Regions from separate parts of the Homo sapiens genome. Here region 1 is linked to region 2. The links come from fine-mapping of genetic effects on plasma protein levels. Region 2 holds a variant in brackets. A gene starts in the other region. All regions are shown on their reverse strands. Region 1 holds the start of ADGRD1 (adhesion G protein-coupled receptor D1). Region 2 overlaps RGS6 (regulator of G protein signaling 6).

The links. PIP is the posterior inclusion probability: the model's chance that the variant is causal. Protein levels are from antibody-based Olink assays in UK Biobank. Linkage for the fine-mapping came from a reference panel and not from the study's own genotypes, which makes the PIPs less certain.
Region 1: ADGRD1 starts here. The variant in region 2 is fine-mapped to the plasma level of the ADGRD1 protein (UK Biobank, PIP above 0.99).

What each region holds. Positions count from the first base shown.
Region 1 is chr12:130,950,036-130,958,365 of GRCh38, reverse strand. It overlaps ADGRD1 (adhesion G protein-coupled receptor D1), which reads right to left and starts at 4,459. Exons shown (of 25, transcript NM_198827.5): 1 at 3,835-4,459; 2 at 3,706-3,742. The coding sequence starts at 3,900.
Region 2 is chr14:72,540,713-72,549,042 of GRCh38, reverse strand. All of the region lies in intron 17 of RGS6 (regulator of G protein signaling 6), which reads right to left. Among named protein-coding and RNA genes, the nearest start is that of MIR7843, 28 kb to the right of the region's middle. RefSeq lists an enhancer at 3,444-4,222. The variant T/C (reference allele first, on the strand shown) is at 3,866.

The sequences.
Region 1 (8,330 bases), not on the chromosome of region 2:
TAGCCAGCCTTGGTCACGGGCGCCTGTAGTCCCAGCTGCTCGGGTGACTGAGGCAGGAGAGTCACTAGAACCCAGGGGGCAGAGGTTGCAGGGAGCTGAGATCACGCCATTGCACTCCAGCCTGGGCGACAGAGAAAGAGTCTGTCTCAAAAAAAAAAGAAAGGATTGGATAGGATGGAGGGAGGGGGGAGGGAGGGAAGGAAATGAGGGAGGGAAATGGAAAAAAGAAAATGAGACAGGAAACAAAGTGAGAGAGAAGGCAGGAGAAGGGGAGAAGGGGAGGAGGGGAACAGTGAGGAGGAAGGGAAGGAAGGCAGGCAGCAGGATGTGTTGTTCATGGAGGGCACCTAAATATTCAGCAAATGTGTCCACCTTCACCATTATTCTAAAAAGGAAGGAAGGAGGAAGGAAGAGAAAAAAGGAAAAGTTCAAAAACAATTTGCAGTGAGAGGAGGACGAGGAAGGACGAGGAGAAAAAGAGGGACTGCTAGAACCTGGAAAGCTGAGGAGAGAGAAACCTTGCGGTTTCAAGAGCTCAGGAGGCATGGCCGCCTTCACTGTGCTTTTCCACACAGACTAGGGGTCACCACACCCTTCCGTCCCTTTCTACTGTCATCAGCATGGCCGTCGTTTCTCTAAGACAGTGCCTTGATCAGGAAATGTTGATTTCTACCCTAAATCCAGACTTGGAAGAACAAAGCTTCTATATGGAACAAAGACTGAGTTCAAACTGCTCCTTCAAGTTTAGATACAAAAATGCAAGTGCACATGTGCATGTGTGTGTACATATGTGTACGTGTGTGGATATGTGAGCTGTGTAAATAGGTGTACATGTGTGTGGATGTGGGATGTGTGTGAATGTGTGAGGGTGTGTGTGCATGTGTGTGCACACATGTGAGTATGTGAAGATGTGTGTGGACACGTGCATGCATATGAGTGTGTGTGGACGTGTGTGGGGTGTACGTGTGTGAGCATGTGTGTATGTATGTGCATGTGTGTAGAGATGTGCGAGCATGTGCAGATGTGTGTAGACACGTGGACTTTTGTGAATGTGTGTACGTGTATGCATGTGTGTAGAAATGTATGGATGTGTGTGGATGCATGTGGATGTGTGTAGTCTGTGACTGTGTGGTCATGTGTGTAGACACGTGGATATGTGTGGACATGTGTGAACATGTGTAAATACATGTATGTTGATGCACGTAGACATGTGTTGGCACATGTGGGTGTGGGTGTGTGCATGGATGTGTATATATGTGCATGTGTGTCTACACATGTGAATTGTGTGGACACATGTGTGGATGCATGTGGACACATGTTGATGCATGCAGGTGTGTGCATATGTGTGGATGCTTTTGCATGTGTATGCATGTGTGTCAACATGTCTGATGTGTATGGATGTGAGTGGTGTGTGGACATGTGATGTGTGTTGGCACATGTGGCCATATGTTGACACATGTAGACATCTGGTGTGTGTGTGTATGCATATGTGTCACCATGTGTGGATGTGTGTGATTTGTGTTGGTGCATGTGGGCATATGTTGACACATGTAGACATGTAGCATGGGGGGGCATGTGGACACATGTGCATGTGTGAGAATGCGTGTGGGCTCTGTATCATAAGCAGAAGTCCGGGGAGAACCCGCACAGCTTTTCTCCAACACTGAGCAGCAGTGAGGGCCATGCTGGGGCCTCGGGGGCCACCTGCCTGCTGCAGGAGCCGGGTGCACAGCTCTGCCTGACCGCCCTGCAGTTCGAGGGGCTACCCCTCTCCTCCTCTCAGTCCTCTCCCCTACTGGAGCCCAGCCCAAGCCATGAGGCCTGCATTCACGAGAAGCAAGGTGTCCAAGGTGGACACGTCCTCTCTTTAACGCAGCGCTGGGCATGTTTATTCGTTCCCAAGCCACAGGAGCCCTTGTTTCATTCAGCGATTTGGCTGAGGAGAGGGGAATGTGTGGAAACTCACAGCTTCCACACCTTTTTAAAAGGAGCTCCCTATGCATGTGGACGAAACAGAAGTGGCAGCGTCCCCACCCCCGAGTTGGTGAATGGAGGTGGTGGCGAGGCGACGATGCCTGGAACATCCTGGCATGGGGCTGCCGGGCAGCCGGAAAGGAGACAGAGGCTGAGGGCACAGCCCCTGGCCCTAGACCCCAGCAGGCTCCTGGTGCTCCATCCAGGAAAGGGGCTCTCCCTGGAGGCCTGGGTATCGCCCTGGGATCTGCCCACAGTGCTGGCCTGAGTCCATTTGTGGTTGATCATTAAAGGCTGGTTCCCAGCCAGGCCCAGTGGCTCACATCTGTAATCCCAACACTTTGGGAGGCCGAGGTGGTTGGATCACCCGAGGTCAGGAGATCGAGACCAGCCTGGCCAACATGGCAAAACCTTGTGTCTACTAAAAATACAAAAATTAGCCAGGCGTGGTGGCATGGGCCTGTAATCCCAGCTGCTTGGAAGGCTGAGGCACAAGAATCGCTTGAACCCGGGAGGCAGAGGTAGCAGAGAGCCGAGACTGAGATCTCACCACTCAACTCCAGCCTGGGTGACAGAGTGAGACTTTGTCTCAAAAAATAAAAACAAAAATAATTTTTTTAAAAAGGCTGATTTCCCATCAGAGACAGGCAGGGCCATACAATAGCGCTCGGGGGGGTGCCCAGCCAAGCTCTGGTGGGGCGGGGGCAGAGGCTGTGCTCACAACAGGCTTCCCAGCAGGGGTTCAGGCACTAGCAGGGTCTCCTCCCCACCTCCTGCAACTTCCAGCAGGGAGCAACAGCCCAGTGACTGCCTGCTGCTCCCAGAAAGCCTCGTCTTCCCATCCCTGCCCCTGGCTGACCAGAACGTGTGCCCACACTCTTAACAGCGAAGGGTGTGTGCCTCCCTGTCTTCCCGAGAGAAGCCCCGTCCTGATGCTTCCTGGTTGGGTGTCACAATGGCCAATGGAATGTGGCTCTGGGGCTGGAGCAAGGGTGGCCCTCTATCCCGAGTCCCACTCATCGGCTGCTCCAGGCTAAGCTGGTCAGCACTCTGAGGCTGGAGGTCCCGAGACCCTGCTATGGGCCAGAGCTCCAACTCCCCACCAGTGAATCTGCCCTGAAGACATGAGATGGGTGTGGTGGCTCACATCTGTAATCCCAGCACTCTGGGAGGCCAAGGCGGGCGGATCACCTGAAATCAGGAGTTCGAGACCAGCCTGGCCAACATAGTGAAACCCTGTCTCTACTAAAAATACAAAAAAAAAAAAAGCTGGGTGTAGTGGTGCACACCTGTGATCCCAGCTACTCAGGTGGCTGAGGCAGGAGAATTGCTTGAACCCGGGAGGCAGAGGTTGCGGCCACTGCACTCCAGCCTGGGCAACAGAGCAAGACTCCATCTCAAAAAGAAAAAAAGGAAGAAAGGAAGAAAGAGAGAAAGAGAGAAAGAAAGAGGCAGAAGGCATTCAAATGAAGATCATATTTCCTTAATCACAATGTTTCATATGACCCAGCTCAAGGGGCCCAGAACCACTTCTCCATCCACCGCTCAGCCGGTGAGGGGTAGCAGAGCTGCCCAGGGTCACAGTGTGTGGTGAGGCAGTGAGGTCGGGGACCAGGAGCCCAACAAGGGCCATTCGCTGATGCCTCAGAGATGAACAAGTGGGCTGTTCCTGAGATACCTGCACTAGGCAGGGGGAGAGCGGTGCTCAGAGTGAGAAGGAAACACTCTTACCTGGATGGTCCTGCGATCTGGAGTAGACGCCACGCACCTGCGCACAAAAGACCACAGTGTGAGACACACTCAGGGAAAGCCTCCGGAGAAACCAAGCCTGTCGCCATCCTGGCCACTTGGGGACATTACCTGAAAGTTGTAATAAAATAGCAGCAGCCAGGAGTACCAGCAGCACAGCCGCAGCAGCTTTTCCATGGCTCTCTCGGAGGTCAAAGCTCGGAGCCAAGTGAAATTCCTGAGGGTCTGTGAGAACGGGACCTCTTAACCTTCACTTCCTTGGAAAAGGGACATTTTCACAGGTTCCAGGGGAGAAAATTTCTGTCTCCTTAAAGTTTGTGAAACACAGCTGTCTTGGAGACCTAATGGGTGTTTCTTCCTCGTCTCAAAACTTGAGATTCTTCAGTGATCAATAAACACGTTGCGATGACCAGAGCAGCTGTGGAATGCAGGGAGGAGAAACCCAAACCCGACTCGCAGTCCTGGGAAAGCAATCCCAGGTCACCACTGTGACCGCGACCTGCGCCCGGGGACGGGAGGCTGTTTGTCCTGCGGTATTTTCTTTTTATTTCAAGAGCCTCCGTTTGTCTCAGTCAGGTTTGGAGCTTCCCTTTTCTCTGAAGAAGGTTTTGTGCGTGGTTTTCCCCTGGAGCGCCCGCCTGCTCCTCGGGCTTGTCCTGCGGCCGCTCTCGAGCTCCTTCTGGTCTGGCTCAAGTTCACACCTCCGTCCTGCTCTCTGGGTGGAGGGGGAGTGAGTGATGTAAGTCTCTCTCCTCAAACTTTGTTCTGTTCTCCTTTTCTATTTATATCCCCACTGCTGTGTCCTTCCTGGGTCCTAACTCCAGCCTCTTAACAACAGCTGAAATATTTCCAGGATCTCAGGCTCAGAATCAAACCAAACAGACATGGTGTGTGGTGTGTGTGCGTGTGCGTGTGTGTGTTACTGATGCCTTCTGGTCAGCACCTTCAAAGTCGGCATAAATATTAATAAATACAAAATGCAAAACAAACCATAAACTCTGTTTAGATCTGAGTCTTGTTTGCCCCCAAAAGAGAATGAAGTTGACAGAGGGATGGAAAAGAGAAAGCAGCACACCCACTGTGCCCTCCATATTAAGCGCTGACCACATTTTTCTCTCTAATCCTTTCGGACGTCAGTGAAAGCTACGGAATTAATTACAAGGTACGCTGCGCAATTACACCATCCCACATATACCCCCACCCCAGCACCAGGAGGATGTTCTCAATGGGATAGAAAAGAGTCAGCCCCTTCGCCAGACATGCCTCAGTTTACCCAAGACCAAAGTTTATCCGATCTACTCCAAATACACGTGGACACACAGAGACACACACCCTAGAATTGCAGTCACAGCTATATTTGCTATGTGATTTAAGTAATATTTACCGCTTCATACTTTCTCCAACATTCACCAGCTGTGCTCCTAGGCAAATTACTTGATCTCTCTTAGTTTTCGAATTCCTCATCCACAAAATGGGGGTTAATAGTTCCTCCTCCTCAGGGCTGTAACAATAAATTAGAGGACAGATCCAAGGCTCTTCAGGCAGTACTTGGAAAATATGTGGCACTCAGTAAATGCTGCTATTTTCTATTAAGAAAAATTATCACTCAGTAAATGTTAGCTATGATTATTATTAGCAAGTATAACATAACACCCAGTAAATGTTAGCTGATACAGTTATCTCAATTGTCCTGACTTTAAATGGGAATTAAGAATCCTGAATCCAACATACTTCCTAAAGAGGATAAGAAAATGACTTCCAATCTCTGTGGGACAGAAAAAAAGAAAGTGCTGTCAAAACGTTAGGTGATTATTTTTAACTTGTGCCTGCAGCCTACAACCGCTCAGATCCTCTGATAGCCTGAGCCTCTCTGTGGAGCTGGAGAAGGGTTCCAGAGAGTTCCATCTCCTAGCAATGGAGAAACTGTGAACTCCAAAGGCCGGGGGCTGTCTGTAATAACGACCTTTATCCTGTTGCTCAGGCTGGTCGGCTTCAGGGAAAACTAATTTACAACCTTTATCTCTGCCATTTCATCAGCTCTCCAGTCCCCCACTGCCTCTCGCTGGAAGAGGTGAAGGGAGGGACAGGCAGCTGCAGGTTTTTCTCAGCTCCAGTTTTAACCTGGAAGAATTCAACAGATTGCTGAATATGCGGACCTTTCCCATCTCCATGACCGAACAAAGCCAGCATGGTTTCTTTTCATCATAAAATTGTCATCAGATAATGGGAGACACCCCGATTCAATGACTGTAATAAAAACTAGATAGCAAAGCAATTCAGCAGAGCTTGCCCTGCAGGCATCTGCACTCATCCTCAGACTCACTCTGACTCTCCATCCCGGACTACAGTCTCGTGCCTCATGCTATTTGCCTGCGTCCTGTCTCAGGCCTTGTTCAGAGGCCCAGATGAAGAGCCCGCCTCCATGTAAAGCAGCGTGTCCTGAAGCCTGGAGATTTGAGACAGGGCCTTGAGTGGTCCATGGGCCTGGAACCAAGCAACTCTGATGTCTCTGAGCATCTCATTCCATCACCCAAACGTCGGGGTGTTCGGCACCCAAACATCACCTTGACAGCAGGTCTCCCTCCCCCTAAAGCCCTCCCCTGCTGTATTTTCTCGATCCCACTAACCACGATCCAATGTACTTCATATCTTAGACGTTTATTTCATTTATTGTCAGTCTCTCCCCACCGAGGCGTAGGCCCCATGAGAGCAGAGACCTTCTTTCTGCCTGTTCGCTCTGCACCCCAGCCCCGAGAACAGGGCTTGGTACTTGGTGAGCACTCAGCGTTTGTCACCAAACCCAGCCTGGCTCTGCCCTCCCGCAGCAAAGCCAAACATGGACGTCGGGATTGCAGTGAGAGGAAGTGAGGCATTTAGAGCAGGGCACCAGGCGAGCAGAACCTGGCAGCTCACACTTCAGACCTGAACTCCCCGATGGCTGATGGGGGAGGGTTTTTCAAGGTGGAGAGGCAGAGGTTACAGGCTAAGTCCCACATGAATAATACCTGGAGGCTGCACATTGGTTTGACCTAAAAAGCTAGGACATCTTGAACTGGGGGCCCACAGGTCATATAGGTAGTAGATTCAGAGGTTTTCTGATTTGTGATTGGTTAAGAAGGCAAGGCTTTGTCAAAAAATTTGAGATCAGCAAAAAAGAATGTTAGCTCTGGCCTGTGGGCATGACCTCCTCCAGGCCCCTCAGGAAGAAATTTAGAACAAAGAACAGTGGTGGGCCCGGAGGGGTGGATCCCAACACTTTGGGAGGCTGAGGCAGGTGGATCACCTGAGGTCAGGGGTTCGAGACCAGCCTGGCCAACATGGCGAAACCCCGTCTCTACTAAAAATACAAAAATTAGCCGGGTGTGGTGGTGCATACCTGTACTCAGGAGGATACTTGGGAGGCTGAGGCAAGAGAATCGCTTGAACCCAGGAGGCGGAGGTTGCAGTGAGCTGAGATTGAGCCACTGCACTCCAGCCTGGGCAACAGAGTGAGACTCTGTCTCAAAAAACAAAGAACAAAGAACGGTGGTGGAGTTCAGCTCTCCGCTCCCCCATATCAGAGGTCTGTAAGTCAACAGATCCATTTGGTGGGGGTCCAGGTTCTGAAAAACAACTCCGGGTCGTTTGTTACGATGTTGTCTTTAGTTTCTACAGGGAAGCAATGAATTCCTGACTCTAACTCTCTTGACTATTGTTTCTCGCCACTATTAACTTCTTGCTTCCCAAGTTGCTCATGTATTTCTCAGGGCTAGCTAGGTGGCTGGAATTCCCCTTCAAGGAACCCAAGATTTTATTGTATTTATTTATTTATTTTGAGATGGAGTCTCATTCTGTTGCCCAGGCTAGAGGGCAGTGGCACGATCTCAGCCCACCACAACCTCACTGAGCTCCCAGGTTCAAGCAATTCTCCTGCCTCAGCCTCCTGAGTAGCCAGGATTACAGGCACCCGCCACCACACCCGGCTAATTTTTTTGTATTTTTAGTAGAGGCGGAGTTTCACCATGTTGGCCAGGCTGGTCTCGAACTCCTGACCTCGTGATCCGCCCACCTCAGCCTCCCAAAGTGCTGGGATTACAGGTGTGAGCCACCGCGCCCGGCCCGATTTTCTTTTTTCTATGCTTGGGTGGGGAGTGCCCGGCAGGCAGCCTCACATTCAACATTCAAGTCATAGTTTTGGGCCACATGCATGTGTACTTTACTTAAAGAATGAAAAACATTGTTACGCTTTGGTAAAATATTTCAGACTTTACTGGGAGGATGCTAATTAAACATTAAAAATGAGACCTTACATTGTGATTAGGCTCCACTCAAAATTTTACAAGGACATAAAGTGTGACGCCAGCTACCAATGGGAACGTAACTGGATTATTTGCAAAGCTGATGCCCTGCGCACAACAGAGCATGTTTCCTGGTGCTGAGCAGCTCAGATGTCCCAGGAGGACAGATCGGGCCTGAACAAAGAATTCTGTGGAGTGGCCCAAATGCTGAGGGAGAGCTGGACAAGCTGTGAGCACAGGAGTTCCTGATGCCTGATTCACACCAATCCAAGGTGCGCCTCCCTCCAGCTCAGACCCTCCCATACGCCGGCATATTTGTGAGAGGCAGCA
Region 2 (8,330 bases):
ACCACAGAATGAAATGCAGTCGGATCCATTTAACAAGTATTTGGGGCAGCATAGAATTCCAGTTGCAAAAGATCATGGGATCTGGTGTAGAAACCTACTCTGCACTATCCTTGGCCATTCAGCTTCTAAACGGCTAGACATGGAGCTCGTTGCCCTTTGAGGGGACATAGTCTATTGTTGGAATATTCTGTTATTGTTAGAATATTTTTAGTATCTACCTATCTATCTTCTAGCCATTTGTTCTAGCCTTGCTCTCTGGAGCAACCCGGAAGTGTCCACTCTTGAAGACAAATGCAAAGAGCTCACGGTGGCCATCAAGTCTGCTGGGGGGCTAGACATTTTTACTCCAGCCTCTTCCGACGTGGCTTCCAGGGTCACTTTCTCTCTCTAGCTCTTCTCTCTCAATTGTCTCTAGATGTTAAAGTTCCTGATAATGTGGGGGCTTAGAACCAAGACTTAATATTGCTTAGAGCAACAAAAAGCAATGGAACACTTTTCCTTTCCCACTTTTGTTATATAGCCTAAAGCTGCCCTTTGGAAAGCAGCTGCATTCTGCATTTGCTTACACTAAGCTTATCGTCAATTACAACCCAAGAAATTTTTTTTTTTTAAACTTGATTTTTAGGAAAGGCTACAAATGCCATCCTGTAGTTGGGAAACTGAATTTAAAACACACACACACACACACACACACGCGCGCACACACACACACACAAATATGATCTGGTAAAATGCTATCTGTTTTTGACCCATCATCCCAGCTGCGGGAAATGCTTTCCAAATATAATTCCATTATCTACCAAATGAGCCACACTTTGGAGGTCTGGATCTTTGAATGTGGTTGGAATGTTTGTCTCTTCATCCAAGTCATCAAAAAGGTTATTGGATGGGCCATGGCTGAACCCTTGTGGCCCGCTCAGAGACTGCCTTTCCAGCGGACATAGACGGATTAATACACCCTCTCCCCTGCCATGAAGACGCTGAATATACTCACTTCACCTACAAAGGGGCAAACAGGGACGTGGAGGTGAGCAGGGGGAGGGAGGCAGGAATGGGCATTGCTTTCACCCTTCTTGTGCTGCTAACAGGCCACATATGAGTATTTTCTGGAGTGGGAAATGTATTTTTTAAGGTTACCCTTCTTAACAGTAAGCCAGACCGCCACGGGGGGTGTGGAGAGAATCTGCCAAATATTACACCAATGAGGCCCATTCCCGTATGTGGCCATGGTGCTGTTGCTCATGCTCAGGCTGATACAATGTGGCCATGATTAGGGGGCATGGAAGAACCGCTGCCCTGTGGCCCTGCCACTGCTGGGGTGGCTCCATGCTTCCAACCCCGTCTCACCTTCCCACCCATTGGGAAGCCACTAAGCAAACACCCAAGGGTCTTTCTCTCATCCACCTTTGGGCAAACATGACAAAACTAAAAATCCCACTGCTCTGAGTCCCACCCCCGGCAGTGTCCCATTTAGCCACACTGCAGGAGGGCAACATCTTACAGGCTATTCCTACCTATGGACAGGTATCCTGGCCTCCTTCCAAAATGTCATGCTTTCCTAACTCAACTCAAACCAGGGACACTCATCACTATTTTAAAAGGGGGAAGCATCCCCTGTTGTTTCCACCAGGAGCTCATTTTGGGGGGACTTCCATGGGTCGGGGGGGGGTCTTACTTCTTAGCCTTTGAAGTCCTCAGACTTGAAGCTCTCTGACTTCTCTTTGAACTTTCCAGTCTGGACCACAGGCAGAGTTGGGTCTCCTCTCCTTGACCGTGACATTGGCAGTGCTGTCGCCTTGCCAGACTCCTGCCATTGGATGCTCTTTCTCTGGCCCCCTCTGCTGCGGTGCTGCTGCTCCCCGGACAGGACTGAGGCAGGCTCTGTCCTAGGCAGAGGCGGGCATCCTGTCTTCTGAGTGGTCGGCCTTCCCGCTGTTTATCCTGCGGGGGGCCCTGCACTCCCCTTCACTCTCTGCCTTCTTACTAGGCAGGTGGGAGCCCACACAGTTCCCATGTGGCTGCACGAGGATGGCACTGGGGTCTGACTGCACAAGTGACAAGCATGCCGAGACCCCACAACCCCATCAGCCGCTTGTAAAGTGAGAGCACCTTTCCTGAGAGTGGGTGGGAGGAAGGCACTGTCATGGCGAAGGCCTGCAGGTCACCTCCCGAAATAGATCCCTGCTTGGCATACACACACTTTGCCCCCAGCCTGCCTTGCTAGAGACTGGCAGGGTACGCGATTTGGATCTGAATCAGTGGCTGTAAACACACAGCTGTGTCTTTCTGCCTCAGAGGATTTGATTTTCACTTGACTGCTTGGCACATTGGGGTCTGGGGAAGGCAGGAGAGGGCCTGGGCGGGGGTCGAGGGAGGGCCCACCAGGGAAAGCCAGGAGCAGCTGCCTCCACCGGGCCCTGATTGCCCCACATGTCCAGAAGGTGAGTCACCAGTGGGGTTTTTCTCCAAGTGGGCACTCCGTGGGGAGAGCATTTTGGCTGCTTTTGGCGGACAGGTTGAACCATCAGCGGGAACAGCTGGGGGCTCCTCCTTCCAACGGAAACGTCAGGGTCTAGGGCCCAGTGTCTCAAAAATGACAACCAACTTCTGGCCTTTTTTGATAAAAGTCTCGAGACTCCTGTCAACCCCGTGAGGAGCCACTTTGTCTTCTCTGTACCCACCAGCCATACTGAGTCTGTTGTTTTACATTTTGTAGTTTATAAAAAATAGACTTTTATATTTTCATTTTCCAGCTACAAAACTATAACAGTAAATATGCTTTTCCTAATTTCACACAGAGTCAAGATAAGAAGCGAAGCATAGAGGAGTTGTAACCTGGTCTTAACCACGGACTTCACCACTGATTGTAAACAGGATAACACTGTCTCTCATACTCTTATTTCCCATCGCTAAAAGAGGACAGCAACAAGCTGGCCCAGGGTTCCCTGGGGAACCAGAAAGCCTGGTAGCAGGTGAGCAGCAGAGTGTGCTGAGATTCCCAAGTGCTCACATTTCATTCCTTCCTATACCCATAGGGCCCCTGGGACCCCACAGTGCATGCAGTGATGCGGCAACACCGACCCTGGGGTCCACCTTTCTGCCCAGCTGACCCCACCTGACACACACACACACAGCTGGGCATCCAGACCGGAAGGGTGGGGACTGCAGAACTGGCAAGCTGAAGGGTGTAGGGCACTCACCCTGTTCTCTGTGAGTCCTCCCTGACCCTCCGGCGACTCACCGTGGACGAGTGAACCCTGAACAACTGAGCAGGGCCTGTGGTGTAGGTGTGGGGAGCCTGGGGCACTCAGTTCTCCTGCCAGTGCATGTCCAGGCTTTGTAAATACACCCAACTCAAGTCTATCCACAGTTTATTTCCCAGCCTCACAGGCTGGCAGGCACTTCTGAATCAGGTAACTAACTGGGCAAGAAGACAGCTCCTCTCCCATTCTAAGGAATGAGTTATATAACTCAGAAATCTCAGGACAGAGGGAAGCACAGACCTGCAGAACACCGCTAGCTGGAAGGGACCATCGAGACGACCTAGTCCAAGTCATTTCAGAGGAGAAAACCAGGGCTCAGAGAGGGCTAGTGATTTGCTTGAGGTCACATAGCTAGCAAGCTGAGGCTGGAAGCAGGAGCCAGTCTGCAGGAGGGCTGCTGAGGTGTCTCAGAGTCCCAGGACATGCACTTGCTGCTCCAGAGAGGCAGGTTTCCCTGCTTTCCTTCCCAAACACTTCGATGGAAGTCTCCCTCCAGCTCCAGCCAGGGCCAGGGTTTCACTGCAGCTGGATCTCAGTGCTCTGAGATGGGAGAGGCTGGCACTAATGTTTGTGACCCAGTGGTCCCAAAGGAGTCCAAGGAC[T/C]GTTTGCAATAAAAACTAACCCTTTGGAAAGATTTTTAGCCAATTGGCCCTTGCCAGAGGCACAGAAAGATCATTTCAACTGAGGTCAAAGCCCTCTGGGGATTCTGCTGAGTCTAGGTATTTGGGAACTCATTCCACCAGGGTGCAAGGCTGTTCCCCATGAAACCTTGAGGAGGAGGGGAAAACAACACCGCCTTCCTGGGGGCAGGAGCTGCTTCTGCCGGTTGGCTGACTGCCCTGATTGCCTGCCTGCCCCCTCCCCTGCGGAGAGCCTTAGCCCTCCACTTCCGGTCAGCACCTGGGCCTGGAGCTGGGAGTTTCTCTCTGCAGAGCTGCCTGGAGGGGGATGAGTGAGCTGTTGACTTCTTGGCTCTCATTAGCTCTTCCTTGGCTTTTGGCAGGGGAAGGAACAGGGGGATGGAAGGAGGGGGCGAGGGAGGCTGAGTGGCAGCTGGCTCCCAGAGCTTCCCGCTCCCCATCTGACTTGCCTGCTGCATTCCTTGGCAGGCAGGCAGGACAGGAAAGCCTGTCGCAGAGATGCCACCCATCACATGCCAAGCCTTCTGCAGCTTCCGGCCCTTCCTGCCGCAATTCCAAGGAGCACCTTGGCAAAGCTAAACTTCGATGCTCTCTTAGGAGGTGGATGAACGCCTGGTCCTCCTCTCCCTTCTCCTCCGTGGCCTCCAGTGCTTGCTCTGGCACCAGCAACCCCATTTTCTATCTATCTATCTTTGGAGCCCAAGGCTGGAGCTGATGAAGCTCTCAAGAGGGCAGGTAAGGTTTCAACTGAGCCTCCAAAGGTACCCAGGGAGGCTGACACCAGCCTCACTCGGGGCTGCCATTTTCTCCTAACTTCAGTGCTATCACCCTCTGCGGCTTTTTCTGTGGAACTGGACAGAGGAGCAAAGGACTTTCTCCAGCTTCTCCTCCCCAGATTGGAGCTCTCACCAGATGGCTTCAGCCAGTATCTATCTCAACAAGGGAGCTGCTGCTGTGGCTTGGCCCCGATTCCTCTTGCCCCCTCTCCCTCCCACGCATGCTCCTGGTCCTCTATGTCAGAGCCAGGCCCTCTTTGGTGAGGCCCCCCACCCCACTGTGGTAGACTCTGTGGAAGCTGAAGCAACAAGCACACTTAAGAGAGAGCAGAGGGCGGGGTGTGGTGGCTCATGCCTGTAATCCCAGCACTTTGGGAGGCAGGTGGATCACTTGAGGTCAGGAGTTTGAGAACAGCCTGGCCAATATGGTGAAACCCCATCTCTACTAAAAGTACAAAAATTAGCCGGGTGTGGTGGCGTGTGCCTGTAATCCCAGCTACTCGGGAGGCTGAGGCAGGAGAATCGCTTGAACCTAGGAGGCAGAGGTTGCAGTGAGCCAAGATTGTGCCACTGCACTCCAGGCTCGGAGAGTGAGACTCTGTCTCAAGAAGCAGTGGGAGGGTGAGCATTTCAGCTCTGGCCACCTTCATGCTCCTATTGTCCTCTGTCAACTGCAAAACCAGGAAGATAGCAGAGAGTGGCAGGCTAGACATCACCAAGCAACAGGAAAGAGTCTTCAGTGAGAGAAGGCACCTCCTCTCCCTGGTCAGTAATGCCTGAGACTTCCCACCAAAGAATCTGAAGAACAGCTGGAAGGTGAAGCAAAGGCAACCCACAGTGACTAGCCAGATTTCTCCTACTGTGGTTTTCATATGTTACAGCCACTGTGAAAGGAAGCTTCCCCATGAGCAGGATTAGGCAGAGACAGGCTCCAAATCACATGACCTGAGGCCATGTATTGGGGGCCCTGGAGAAGCTGCTGTGTGTTACAGCTCTTTCTGAAACAGGCTCCTCGGACAAGGGTGGCCATGTACAGTGGCGTGGGTTATTCACTGCACCAGGGCAGCTGAGGATCAATAGGGGCTGAAACCCAGCCTGTGTTTTGCCTGGTCAGCTGGGCATCTGTGAGGCTGGGCCCACCAGAGGGAGTCTTGTTTTCCATTTTGGATGAACGTACATGGTAGGCTAGTTGCGCCCTGTCGTGGACTTCAGTCATGTTTAGTTCAGAACCTGGGCCTTATCAAATAAGCAGGGTTTGTGGTTTCAGTCTGCAAAATGACAGGATGCTTGGCCCAGTGTCCCCAGACATTTGCTTTGTATATCCAAGTCCTGAGTAACCTGGAATGAAGCTTGCATTGGAAAGAGAAGCTCATACAGCACTTCCTCTATTGACTGGGGAGTACCAGGCCCCTTCGTCACCCAAACTAACATGGCCCTAAAAGCTTCCATGAACCATATTAAATGTCTCCTTAGGATCTCATGGAAAAGGGGGCATATGTGGTCTTAACAGATAATCCCTCTATGTCATGGCACAACATAAGACTTGGAAAGAACAATTTGTTTTTTCCAAGTGTTTCTCTTCTACCAAGAAAAGAAAGGACATTGGCATGTTCTGGGGAGAAATTCTGAATTCAGATTCAGTCTTGACAAGCCTCCAGCTGAATGAGTTATCCAATCACCTGGATCAACATTATTTCTTTTTGCCATCAATTAATCCTAAATGGTAATTGGCCTCACGTCTTTGGTCCGTGAGCTGCCCAGCTTCACTCCCCTGTTTCCATTATTAGCCCCATGACATGGGTCATGTTCTTACACATCTTTCCCAGCAACACAGGAATGCTATTGAACTGGCCCTTCATTTAGTTTTATAGCTTGCAGTATATAGCAGATAAAACATTCACGTAGATCTTCTCTTAGAGAAATCAAATACTTTAGGCATATGATAGTCAGAGAATGGCTATCAAATTGCAAGGCATATTGGTTGATCAGTTAGTTAGTTCTGTTTGATGAGACCACTGGGCTGTTGAGACCAGATTCCTGGGTTCCAATCTTAAGTAATCTGAGAGCCAACACATGGGTCATATTATTCCCCAAACTTAGCCACATCTTGTGGGGCTATGGTGTCACCCCAAGAGCAGGAGGAGCATGGATGGATGGCAATCCATCTCCACCACTGGAACCCCAAATTCTGAATGCATCACCTGTTAGAGTTTCTTGTTCATAAAATAGCAGGGAATTTAGGAATTTAGTTTTTTTTAATAGTTTGGGCCTTTTATCCACACCCTCAGGAGCTTAGGATACTTTTCTCCTTCAGCTCACTCTGAAACTCCCTCTGGAAGCTCTCCCATGTGTGCACTTCAGACACTTAGGGGTGTCTTGGTGCTTTCTTGTTCCAAATGCTTTGCTAACAGACCTTGGGAGAACCCCCAAGCCAACACCACTTCTGGGATGAAAGGAAATCAATAAATGCTCCTCACAGAGCTTCGCGAGACCATTCTTGCCTTTCTTGATACTCACTTCTCTTGAAAAACAGCCTGAAAATGTCTGGACGTTTTGTCCAAGTACCAGGCTTCCCCTCTCACACCCGTGGCCTGCACGGTCACCCTCAAGAGCTTCCGGGGGCTGTCAAGGCTCTGCTTACACAGGCACCCTTGGCTTGTCAGCAAAATCCCTAACCATCCTCCACCCGCACAGTAGCCAGTCCTCAAAAGAGACAAACAGAGAGAGATGGGATCCCACTACCTTCTCTCAGGCCATCATGGAGTGAAGGAAGTCCCAGAAGCCTTGACTCTGACAGCCCGTGGCAGCTTCTTGGTGTGCGGAGCCACACGGCCATTGGCAAAGCAGCCATGAAGATAGACCAGGCACCCGCAGGCCTTGTGTTCTGCACATTCTGATTTCTCATGAGGAAAGGCCACAGAGAGGGAAGACCGAGGAAGGGAAGGGATGGATACCGATGTTTAATTAATTGCCACCCACTAGAGTTATTTGAGGTTTACATGTAGCAAATTCAAGATAATGTTTAAATGCACTTAAAATGCATCTAGCTACGACACGTAAATGACTAGGCTGCTTTCAACCCAGGAGCCTTAGACTTTTTCTTAAAAGGATGAAATACGTATACCAGTCACACAGTAGTCAGGTTTTACAAGGATTTTCCTCCTCAACAGAGGTGGAACAAAGGCAAGTCAATATCAATGGGCTGCCACCCTTTGGGAAGGGAATGTGGCCAGCTCCCTGCATGGGACCCTGCTCCCTGGTTCCCTCTGGTTTGATGTTCATGGTACAGGATGGGCCCCGTGATTGAGCGGGATTGAGTATTTCTTGTGCACTGAGCTCAATGTTCAAATCTTGGGCCGACCAGCATGGAAAGAGGAGATTGGCCTGTGTTGTTCTACAAACCATGGTAGAGAGTCTCAGCCATGCACCCCAGGGAACAGCCACGGACTCCCCACTCCCACCTGTTGCCACGGCTGTCTTTATGTGCCACTGTGGGGAGCTCTACCTCTCTAGCTGGGGCGTACCATGAACCTGTAGGAATCTGAAGCCCATCTTTACCCAGCCTGTTAGAATCAAGGCCTGAGGAGGCCGGTAGGACCTTGCCCCCGGGGAGTACCCAGGACACCGCAGGGATTCAGCTACTTCCCTCC